Regions from separate parts of the Homo sapiens genome. Here region 2 is linked to region 1. The links come from fine-mapping of genetic effects on plasma protein levels. A gene starts in region 1. The other region holds a variant in brackets. All regions are shown on one strand. Distances are between the middles of the regions.

The links. A credible set is the group of variants that fine-mapping cannot tell apart. PIP is the posterior inclusion probability: the model's chance that the variant is causal. The UK Biobank Pharma Proteomics Project read protein levels with antibody pairs (Olink). The fine-mapping took linkage between variants from a reference panel, not from the people measured, so its PIPs are less certain.
Region 2: its variant is the best candidate, but not a certain one, in a credible set for the plasma level of the WIF1 protein (UK Biobank, PIP 0.65).

The regions. Positions count from the first base shown.
Region 1 is chr12:65,121,141-65,126,518 of GRCh38, forward strand. It overlaps WIF1 (Wnt inhibitory factor 1), which reads right to left and starts at 165. Exons shown (of 10, transcript NM_007191.5): 1 at 1-165. The coding sequence starts at 51. RefSeq lists a silencer at 326-485.
Region 2 is chr12:64,935,384-64,940,761 of GRCh38, forward strand. All of the region lies in intron 2 of LINC02389 (long intergenic non-protein coding RNA 2389), which reads left to right. The region is part of intron 3 of LINC02231 (long intergenic non-protein coding RNA 2231); the gene reads right to left. It also overlaps the pseudogene RNU6ATAC42P. Among named protein-coding and RNA genes, the nearest start is that of LINC02231, 54 kb to the right of the region's middle. The variant C/G (reference allele first, on the strand shown) is at 2,560.

The DNA of each region.
Region 1 (5,378 bases):
GATGCTCCAGAGCCAGAGCGCGGCGGCAGGGAAGGCGCTCCTCCGGGCCATGCTGCTCAGGACCTCCTCGCTGCCGGGAAAACTCCTCGTGCCGCACCTACGCAACCTGGCGCCGTCAGATACTCTGCTGCGCTGCAGCTCCCTCAGCCAGGGCTGTTCCCGTTTAGACGGCTGGGCGCGTCGCCTCCCGGCCTGGGTGCCAAGGAGCCTGCGAGAGCAGGAGGAGGGGGCAGGCAGGACGCGGGAGGAGGAGGGGGGGACCAGCGGGCGCGAGTCGCGCAAGAAGATGGGGCGCGGGCGGGAGTGGGGGCGGCAGAGACGTAAGACTGGCAAAGCTGGCGAGGCCAGCAGTCAGCGGGGCAAATAGAGCGAGAACAGAAGAGCGGGAAGGGCTGGCGCGAGCGAGGTGCGAGCGAGGAGTGGGGCCCGCGAGGCCTGGGCGGCCGCCACTTGGGGGCGCTGTGGGGCCCCCCCGGGGGCGGGGCCGCGAGGGACCCCCGAGGCTGCATTCACAGTGCGGTGCGCCCAGTGGAGCGCCCGCGAAGTGGGCGTGTAGGGCTGGCGGACCCGGAGAAGGGCACTCAGAGACCCCTGGGACATCACTCGCCACCTCCTCGGGCCAAGGGAGGCTTCGGGGGAGGGAAATGGGGAGAGCAGACAACGCTGGGCTTGACTGAGTGCTGATGATGGTGATGGTGATGGTGATGATGATGATGATGATGATGATGAGGTGATGACTCCTGTTCCTCCTCCGGCGCTCACTGAAGGCGCAAATTGCCCTTCGTCTCCCTTTCAGCCAGTAGGATTCCTCTCTCCGCCAACCCTATGCGCTCCGTTCTGCGATAGGCTGGCACTTTGCGCGCTCCCAAGCAGTTAAAACTCGAGGCTCGACTGTCCGATGGTGCCGATGGCAGGCGCTGGCCTTGGCTCGAGGCGCAGGGCGTCCAGCTGGTACTTGCCCGACACCCAGCATTTGGGGATTCCCGTCTGTCTCCCTGATAACCCGGCAGTGCCCGGAAGAGTGCCCTGGGCCCTGGACGATAGCTGTACCTGACCCTCCGGGGTAGGGCTCCTCTAACATCGTGGATATCTTCACGTTTGCTGATATTTTTTAAAAGTTGCTGAATTCGGCCGGGCGCGATGGCTCACGCCTGTAATCCCTGCACTTTGGGAGGCCAAGGCGGGCGGATCACCTGAGGTCAGGAGTTCGAGACCAGCTTGGCCAGCGTGGTGAAACCCCGTCTCTACTAAAAATGCAAAAATTAGCTGGGCATGGTGGCGGGGGCCTGTAGTCCTAGCTACCCGGGAGGCTGAGGCAGGAGAATCACTTGAACCGGGAGGCGGAGGTTGCATTAAGCCAAGATCGTGGCACTGCACTCCAGCCTGGGCGATAGAGCGAGACTCCGTCTCAAAAAATATATAAATAAATAAATAAAATAATTTTTTAAAAGTTGCCGAATTCACAGGTGCGTGGGGGCAAAACCAAGGCTCTGGCCTCGTCTGTGAGAAGCATGCTTGGCCGGCAGTGGGCTGCAGCATAACCTATCCACCTGGCCCAGCAGAAAGAACTGATTTTTGCCTCCTGCCTAATTCCTCGGATGCACAAAGAAAACGGAAGCAAAAGGGTTTTGTTTTGTTTTGTTTTTAATTAAAAAACTTAGCCTTCGGACTCATAAAAGGTTCATTTACTTGTGTTTGTTCTTTAGTACCCGAAGCTGTGACAAATGCCTCAAGGATCAAATGTCTGGGGCTGGGCGTGGTGTTTCAATCAGTCCTTTATAGAGTAGCAGATGCCTCAAGAGGGAAAAACAAACAGAAACAACAGAAGAGATGGTGGACATGTGCAGGCATCAAGTTAAATCAGTGTTAGGTTCTGAGAATATAGATTTCCAATGAGGAAATATTTGCAGCTATACAACCAACCAATAGAAAAAAAAAAAAGGAAAAAAGGAATTAGACAAGAAGTCTATGACTGATTTGAACTTGCAGTGTCTTAATTTTTAAAGTACTTTTATTTTAAGTGCTTACTTAATCCTCACAACTCTTAAGTAGGTACTACTATTATTCTTATTTTACTGACGAGGAAAGAGGGCTCAAAAAGTCCAGTAAGTTGACTGTGGATATCCAGCTGGTAAATGAGAGTAAGGGTTCAAATCCCAGACACTCTGATTTCAAAGCCCATTCTCTTAGTAACTTATACCTCATACTGATAAATAAATCATAATTAAGTCTATTTGCATCCAAAGCTTCACAGTGATTCTTCCTTTACAATAAAAATATTTACCTGTTTCCCAACATTGCATTATTTTTTATTTCTATGAATATTCATGTATATAATGTATGAACATTAGGCTACTTTTAAAACACTTTAATGTTATAATGCCAGTGTCACCCAGGTAAAGATAATAATTTCACAGCACAATAGGCATTTTCTTTAACTCGGAGCGAGTGGTTTTAACATTTTTTTCTAGTTCTGCGCAAACCTCTATGGCTCTTGGTGCAAGGACGCCCTCTACAGGTTTTCCTAATCAAATACTAATTGAGAAATATTCATAAAATTTATTTTTTGGTGCAAGAAAAAGAGGAACTAAATTCTCTCCTAACTCGGTTTCCTCTGAGTGAGGTTCTTCTGCAGCAGTTGAATTTGGTGTTGATAACAATGGTAATCTATCTTGCTATAAGGACGTTTTTTTTCTTCCAGAATGGTTGTTTTCTGTTTACTTCTCTCCAGCACAGGACACTTAGAAAAATTATATTTTATTAGAGATAGATAAAGAGAAATGCTATTTAAAAAATTTTTGATATAAACTCGTTTGGTTATTAAAGGGGACAAAGGAACACATGTTTTGTTATACAACAGTGATTTTTAAGGGTAGCAGCGTGGTTCTTTTTGTAGGGAGGTCTATCTCTAAGAGATGAATCAGGCTTGACTCTCCTTTCTGTTGTTAAGGAGCAGTTATGTAGCTATTTCATTAAGAATTGATTTAAGTTTTTAAATTTCTTTAAACAAACATGTGACAATATTTACTAGCATATGATAAAAATTTGGAAATAATGTGCTAGGCAAGTCAACTTCATTTCGTTTGAAAATTCTGCCATTTATTTTCCAGTTCATTATGCTTCCTTTCCTTGTGCGATTCCCTCTCATCAATTATGTGTGCAGGCAGCTTCATTTATTTGTTCATTAACTCATTTGCTTATTCAACAAAGATTTATTAAACAGCTATTATATGTAAGACACTGACCTGGAAATTATAGTACAAATAAAACATGATCATAGCCTTCAAAGAGCAATAGAGCTACTAAAATAAGTAAGACAAGTACCTAAACAACCATAATACAAGGCAGAATGTGGTGATTGTTGATAAGGCAGAATGACTGGAAATTCATAGAAGAAATCTTGTATCTAGAATTCTGCACATTTGTTTGTTCATTCATTCATTCAAAATATATTTACCCGGTGTCTGATGTTTGCCGTATATAAGCACAGGGGATAGAAAGGTAAGTAAAAAGACAGCCCTGCTGTCAAAGAACTCTCAGTCTAACAAGGGAGTGTGTTGAGAATAAACAATAGAGAGGAATGAACGCCATGGTGGGAAAATGCACAGGGTATTTTGGGACTCAAGGAAAATCCTTCGAGGCAGACTGGGTTCTGGGAAGACTTTCTAGAGTAGAGCATACTTGAGCAGTCTTGAAGGTCAAAGGGGAATTGAGCATGCAAGGGGGAAAGATAAGGAACATCCATGCATAGACAGTGGCAATAGTGAGAGCAAGAGACATGAGAAAGAATGGCACCATGCAGGATCTGCAGGTGCTGACCTGTAGTATGATGAGCCTGGAATGGGAGAGGGAGGGAGCAGCTGGGGATGAAGCCCAAAATGTAGGTAGGACCTGGTTATGGAAGATTGTGCTGAGAACAATTCCAAATAATTTGTTTAGAGACGCTGTCCTCAAAGAGGCGAGGCGTAACTCCCCACTCCTGAAGTGTGGGATGTGCAGAGTGACTTCCTTTTATAGCGTGCAGTGTGGAAAGTGGGGAAAGTAACAAACCTGACAAACACTACTTCAACTAGGTGATCAAGATCATCAACAGTGATGAGTCATGTGATAGTATGTGCCCTTGATATGATGTGATGAGAATGGTACTTTACCTATGTGATCTTGCTCCTGAAAACCCATAACCCCAGTCTAGTCACAAGAAAAATATCAGAAAAACCCAACTGAAGGACATTCTACAAAATTCCTGATCAGTATGCCTCAAAACTGTCAGTGATCAAACAAAAAAGGGAAGTCTGAGAAACTCGTAGCCAAGAGGAACCTAAAGACACATGACTACCAAATGTAATGTGCTATCCTGGACAGCATCCAGGAATAGAAAAAAGACATTAGGTAAAGCTAAGGAAATGTAAGTCAACTACTAATAACACTGTATCAATATTGGCTCATTAATTGTGACAAATGTACCATTCTAATATAGGATGTTAATAACAGGGAAAATTGGGTGTGGGGGTATATGGAAACTCTCTGTACTATCTTTGCCATTTTTGCTGTAAATCTAAAACTGTTCTAAAATATAAAGCTTATTTTAAAAATTAAAGATCAAGACTTGAATATGTTTAAAAAATCTTAGCTGCTGACATTTGAAAAGCAGATTTTTTAATTAAAAATTTGATTTCTGGCTGCTCTTGAAAATGTAGAGATCTGACAATATTCCCTTCTTAGAAAGAATCAGATGGTGTGAGTAGTGACTGCCCTTCAAAGAGGACTAGCGTGCCCAGTCGTTACAGTTGCACTACTCTTCCATCCAGCATGCTTTGCTCTTTTACTTGACCATCTAGGCTTCTGTAGGCTCCTGAGTTTGCCATGCATATCCTGGAGGAGACCCGGAGGGACAGGGAAGAAGAAGGTATCTGAGGGGGCTGAAGCCAGTGCTCATCTTGGAAGTGCAGTTGTGTGGGAACCAGGGCAACACAGCTCTAGAGGTAGGTCTTGTCAGTGTCCAGCCATTCATTCACCCAGGCAAGTTGCCAGAACTATCTTGGTGACTGCAGGCATTGGGACTGAGACTGGTGCATATCAGCTGCACCCTAAGCTGTGTCTTGGAGAAGGAAGGAAAAGATACCCCTGTACTACACTGCTGTGGAGAGGGAGACATGAGATAGTAAATGAAAAGGGCAAGTTGGCGAGGATTATGCTTAAAAAACAAACTCTCTTCTTATACTACCATATATAATAGCTATATATAACTATGGATAGACTATAACTGTCTACCTTTTCTATAACGTCTGAAAGTTTATATAACAAAATATTTCTAGTGGTTACCTATGGGAAGTAGGAACACAGATAGGGAATGATTTTCCATTTATGCACAAATATTT
Region 2 (5,378 bases), 190 kb before region 1:
AACAAAATGCCACTGTGTGGATTAAACAACAGAAACTTATTTTCTCACAGTTCTGGAGGATAAAAGTCTAAGACCAAGGTGCTGGCAGGGTTGCTTTCTGGTGAGGCCTCTTTTTCTTAGCTTGCAGGTGGCTGTCTCTGTGTTGTGTCCTCACATGGTCTTTCTTCTGTGTGCATGGAGAGAGAGTTCTGGTGTCTCTTCCACTTCTCATAAGGACTCTAGTTCTCTTGGATCAGGGCTCCTCCCTTATGACCTCATTTAACCTTAATTACCTCTTTAAAGACATTGTTTCCAAATGCAGTCACACTGGGTGTTAGGGCTTCAACATATGAATTTTGGGAGGACACAGTTCAGTCCATAACACCAATGTAGAGCTAAGGCAGCAAAGCATTGGTCTAGGGGCAGACAGCAAATCATTTTGAGGAGATTCTGTTACTTCTGTGAGAAACCACTCTGAATCTATGGCAACTTGTTATCTCTTGCCCTAGAAGTGCCCCAAGGAAGGAGGACCTTTCCTTGTGATTTGACAGAAGATCACTGTGGAGAGGGAATGAGGGTCCTTTCATGAGGAATGGGATCAAGATTTCGACCCCTACGTTTTTGATAGACAACCTTCTAGTGGATTGAGATGATCTCAATGAAGGTCACCAGAAAGAAAAGATCCTAAAGGATCCCAAGAAGAATTTTTTGTGAGAGAAGAGGGAGTCTGGTAATCTGGGCCCAATGTGAGGCCATGTTTATAGCAGCAATCATAAAAACAGTGGCTTATTGCCCCAGGACTCTTTTACCTGAAGTAATTTTGTTGGTCTCGCTCAAAGTGTTTGGCTTCAAAGTAGGTGACATTCAGTGATGGATAGTCCCACCAGGGTGTCATGGGTGGGAGAACATTGGTTCTCTAACGGAAAGATGAATAGTAGTTTGGCAACAAACGGTAGATGTGCATCCTTCTTCCAGCTCAGGTATGAACTCGTTGAGGGCAATGACTGTGCTTGGCTGCACAGTTTCAACATTCTTTGAAGATATGGAGGTAATTAATGATCAGTTCACTGCACTCTTCTCAGCTGAGGCTTGGCCTTAGACACTTAGTTTCCCTGCCTCCAGATTATTTTCTTGGACTTGTGAGCGATAAGTCATTGGAATGGAAGAAAGTCTTTATACACAAGTAACTTCTATGTTCTGAAAGAGAAAGGTAAGAGGTGCCTCAGCCTTGGTGTTAAGCCTGTGAGACCCTTTGAGCCATGGGGGCAGAGGCTGCTGGCACTCGCCCTGGAAGACAATTTAATCCAGGTCTCAGCCATCCTTGAAGTTTTTTGCATGGTCTTAGTGAGTCTGTGTGAGCATCACTTCAGATGTGGTGAGAAGCTTACATGGAAACTATTACATCAAAACATTTCATTTAGTTGGGGGACTGTTTGGAAAAATCCTATTTTTTTTTGAAGGAACAAAGAGAAGTTGATGAAAAGATTTGAGGTTATAATGACCAAAGTCTCCACTGCCTTCCTTCCCTCCCCTCCCCTTCTTCCAAAATGAGAGAAAAGAAATAAAGCTGGAGAAATATCTTGAATGTAATAAGTCTGGCAGGCCAGGCTTTTAGTGAGGATAGCGTGTCATTGTAATACCTTTTAATTATAGCTGTATAATTATAAATAGGAAAGAAATTAAAAGATGAAAATGTGGTTTGTAATGAAATTACCATAAATACCATGGCAGACTTTTAAGTTGTCATGCAAATTCATAATACAAAAACATGAATGTGGAAGTTAATTTCTCCTAAAACTAGAAATTAAAATTTTGTGGACTCGTGGTCTTCCTTGTTAGCTTGGCATTTCCTCCTGAGTACACATAAGCACTGTTAGTTATGCAGACATAAACAGACCTTTAAAGAGTTAGTGTCCTGGCTGGCAACCCTTATGTTCTCCAGGCCACCTGGGCAAGCTGACATAGAAATGACTCAGGTTCCAAAGACAAATGGTGGAGACATGAAAAGAAAGCTAGTCCAATTGCCTGGACATTTTCAGTTACTTCTCCATTTGGAAGCAGGCATGTATTTTGTTTGTGATGCACGAGTTTATCTAGCCCTCTTTATTTAAAAGCCCATTTTACTTCCCATTGAACTGACACATTTTCATGATTGAGGATAGGGGATCATAATTGCAAATTGCTACATTGGTCCTGAGGCCAAAACTCAAGGTAGTAGATTGGAGACTTAGACAGCTTACATCATCCTTTAGTGCCTTCATGCTTCCCACAGGCTAGCTCCTGTTTGTTGAAATACTGCTCATGGGGTCAATATCATGAGGTCAACTTCCTAAGCCTGTTCCTTAGCTGCACACTACTAAGACATCTTAAAAATGTGAAACCTTGATTCAAAGAGAGATCAAATAAGTGAGTCTGGCTCACTCACTATTGCAGACCTTTCTCTGACATTGTGAAAATGCTTAACACATGTACAAGTGATGGTAACTTGTGCCCTCTTTTTGCATATGAAAGAGACTTTTTTCTTTTTCTGAACCAAGAACAATTATTTTGCCATTTTAAAAAATACCATTGGCCTATGGG[C/G]TAGCACAATCAATTAAGAGGTATAATTTTATGCCTCTGCTATGAATAAGAGGTTATGCTGTGATGGCTACCTAAAGATAGGACAGCAAAGTAAATTTGAGGATGCCAAATAGAAAAAGATATTCAGGAAATAAAGGGGTAAATTGGAGAAGGCCTTGTATACTGGACATTTTTTTTTTTTTAAATATAGATAAGGAGACCCATGGAAGGTGTTTAGGCAAGGAAGTGACATGACAAAAGTGGTATTTTGGGATAAACTGAAAGAGAATAAGTAGGAAGGTGTTCACTGCCTGCCCTGTAGATTCTGTGGGAGCAGGAACACAGTGGCAACCGCCTGGCCTTAGTGTGATTCTGTGGGAGCCCAGCTGTTGGGAAGTGACTACTAGGGCTGTGTAGAAGGTCTGGCTCCTGAGAATTCTCTCCTCCCTCATCTCACTGTCTCCACCCAGTGGGCCAGGAGATTTCAAGTGAGGGATGTCGCCCTCTAAGCAGAGCAGTATCCCAGGTGGAAGAAAAGGGGGTTCTTGGAGGGCAGAAGCACCTGGCTGGGGATGTTTGCAGCTGTGTGTCATAGTGGAGGTGAAGTTTGAAATGGCCTCAAGGGATTGGTCACATTTCTCTATACCCCTTTTTAAACTCTGAGGAAAGGATCAATCTAAGACCTAGGTGACTTTGATTGGTCCCTCCGTCCAGAGCCACTGTGCTAGCCAAGCCAGCAGATGTGCTGAATACATCATGGGGGAAAAATATGGATAAATAGAGGAATTTGATTGCTATAAAATGAAGATAAGCTGAACAACCTATAGCAAAGGAAGTTAGAATTAGTGGACCAGAGACATAAGAATATAAAACAAACATAAATAGCCACAAACGGGGGAAAAGATAAAAATATCAGAAATAGCAAAAAGAAATGAGCATCACAAAGAATATTCAACTAGAGAATTGGGTAATAAGAAAGCAATAGATGAAATGAAGAACTCAATAAAGGGATTGAAGAGCAGAATGTAAACTTTGGATTAACTAATCAATGACCTGGAAGTCTCAAACCCCTAGGCAGCAGTAAGAAAGAGAAGGACTGCAGTGTTTTTGAAAGGACAAAAGGTTAGCACTACCCTTGACAAGGATGGAAGAGGCCCTCAGGCCTAAAAATTGAAAAAAAAAGATGAGGACTTCATAAAAAAGAGAATTAAATGATATGGCATATAAAAATAGAAATGTCAACATGATAACAATCTCAGAATGAGCCTGGGCAAACATGGCGAAACCCTGTCTCTATAAAAAAATGAAAAATTAGCTGGATGTGGTGATGCATGCCTGTGGTCGCAGCTACTCAGGAGGCTGAGATGGGAGGATCGCTTGAGCTGGGAAGGTCGAGGCTGCGGTGAGCGGTGATTGCACCATTGCACTCCGGCCTCCAGCCTAGGTCACAGAGTGAAACCCTGTCTCAATTAAAAAAAAAAAAAAAAAAAAAAGTAAAGTCTCAGAATGAGAGAGAAACAATAAACAGTAGTGGAGAACTATTTTGAATTAATGATAATCTACATAGAAATACAGATAAAAGCTTTAGATTGAAGGGGTTTCGCCAGTGTTGTACAGTAGAGATAAGAAAAAAAAATCAACACCTAGATACATTACATTATCAGGAAATTTAAGAACTTAAAAGAAGATTCCTGAGAGCAAGAGCAAATGACCTTGAAAGGAACAAGAATAAGCTGTCATCACACTTCTCAATAGCAACACCGGATGCAAGGAGACAGTGCAGCCATACTTCCAAAGCACGAGAATTTTGCTCCTGGGTTTTATACCCAGATACATTATCACTGAAATGCAAGGGGCAAAATGAAGATATTCTTAGGGATGCAAGGTCTAAGAATGTTTATCTTGCAAGGACATGCTTTGAAATGCTGCTGTAGGACAAAAGGTCATTCTAGGAGGATGATAAGAATACTGGAAATGTGTTAGTCAGTGCCCAGTCGGGAAGACAGAAATAATTTTAGATCATTCAAACTGAAAGGGATTTAATGTGGGGCGTTGATTCTAAAGATGTTTGGAGGAGCAAAAGGGAAAGGGTGTTCTACCCAGAGCTCAGGGATCTGCTAGCATACCTGGGAGAGAGTGTATGAGCCACCCTCACTGGGGTCACTGCTGGAACCATGGAGCCATTGTCCACCAGTGCCACTGAAACCACAGGGCTGACATTGAGCAGGAGCCACCTACCTCTGCTGCTGCAGCTGAGGCACTGTCAGAAACAATGGCCCCACCCTTATTTCTACTTGCCAGTCAGGTGCAGTTCCCCCAGATTGGCAGAACCAAATTTAACTTTAGCTGTCAAGGAAGTCTGGGGAATGTGGCTTTCTGCTTACCTGTCTTCCAGAGGAGAATATAAGAGAGTGAGTATGGGGCTAAAGGCCAACAGACAAATATCTGACCTTGGAGCTAAGGGTCTGTAAACAAACTAGAAAAGTTAATTCCTGTCCAAATGAAGGGAACAAAGAGAGAAGACAAGAAAGGCACACCCATTACAATCTAGTACAAAACCCGACAATACCAATATGACCAATACCAACGTGACCAACTAAAGCAACTGTAAGATACCACTTTATGGACATCAGAGTAGCAAATATTATAAAATTGAATGATTCCAAGTGTTGGCAAGAATTTAGGGGAAAAAAGGCATGTGAGAGTTAACTGGTACAGACACAATCTAGCAATACTTAGAGAAACCAAGGGTGTATTTATATTCTGTATGATCCATCCAACTGACGCCTGGGAATATACACCAGAGAAACGCCTGCAACATATCCATAAAGGGCCGTAAT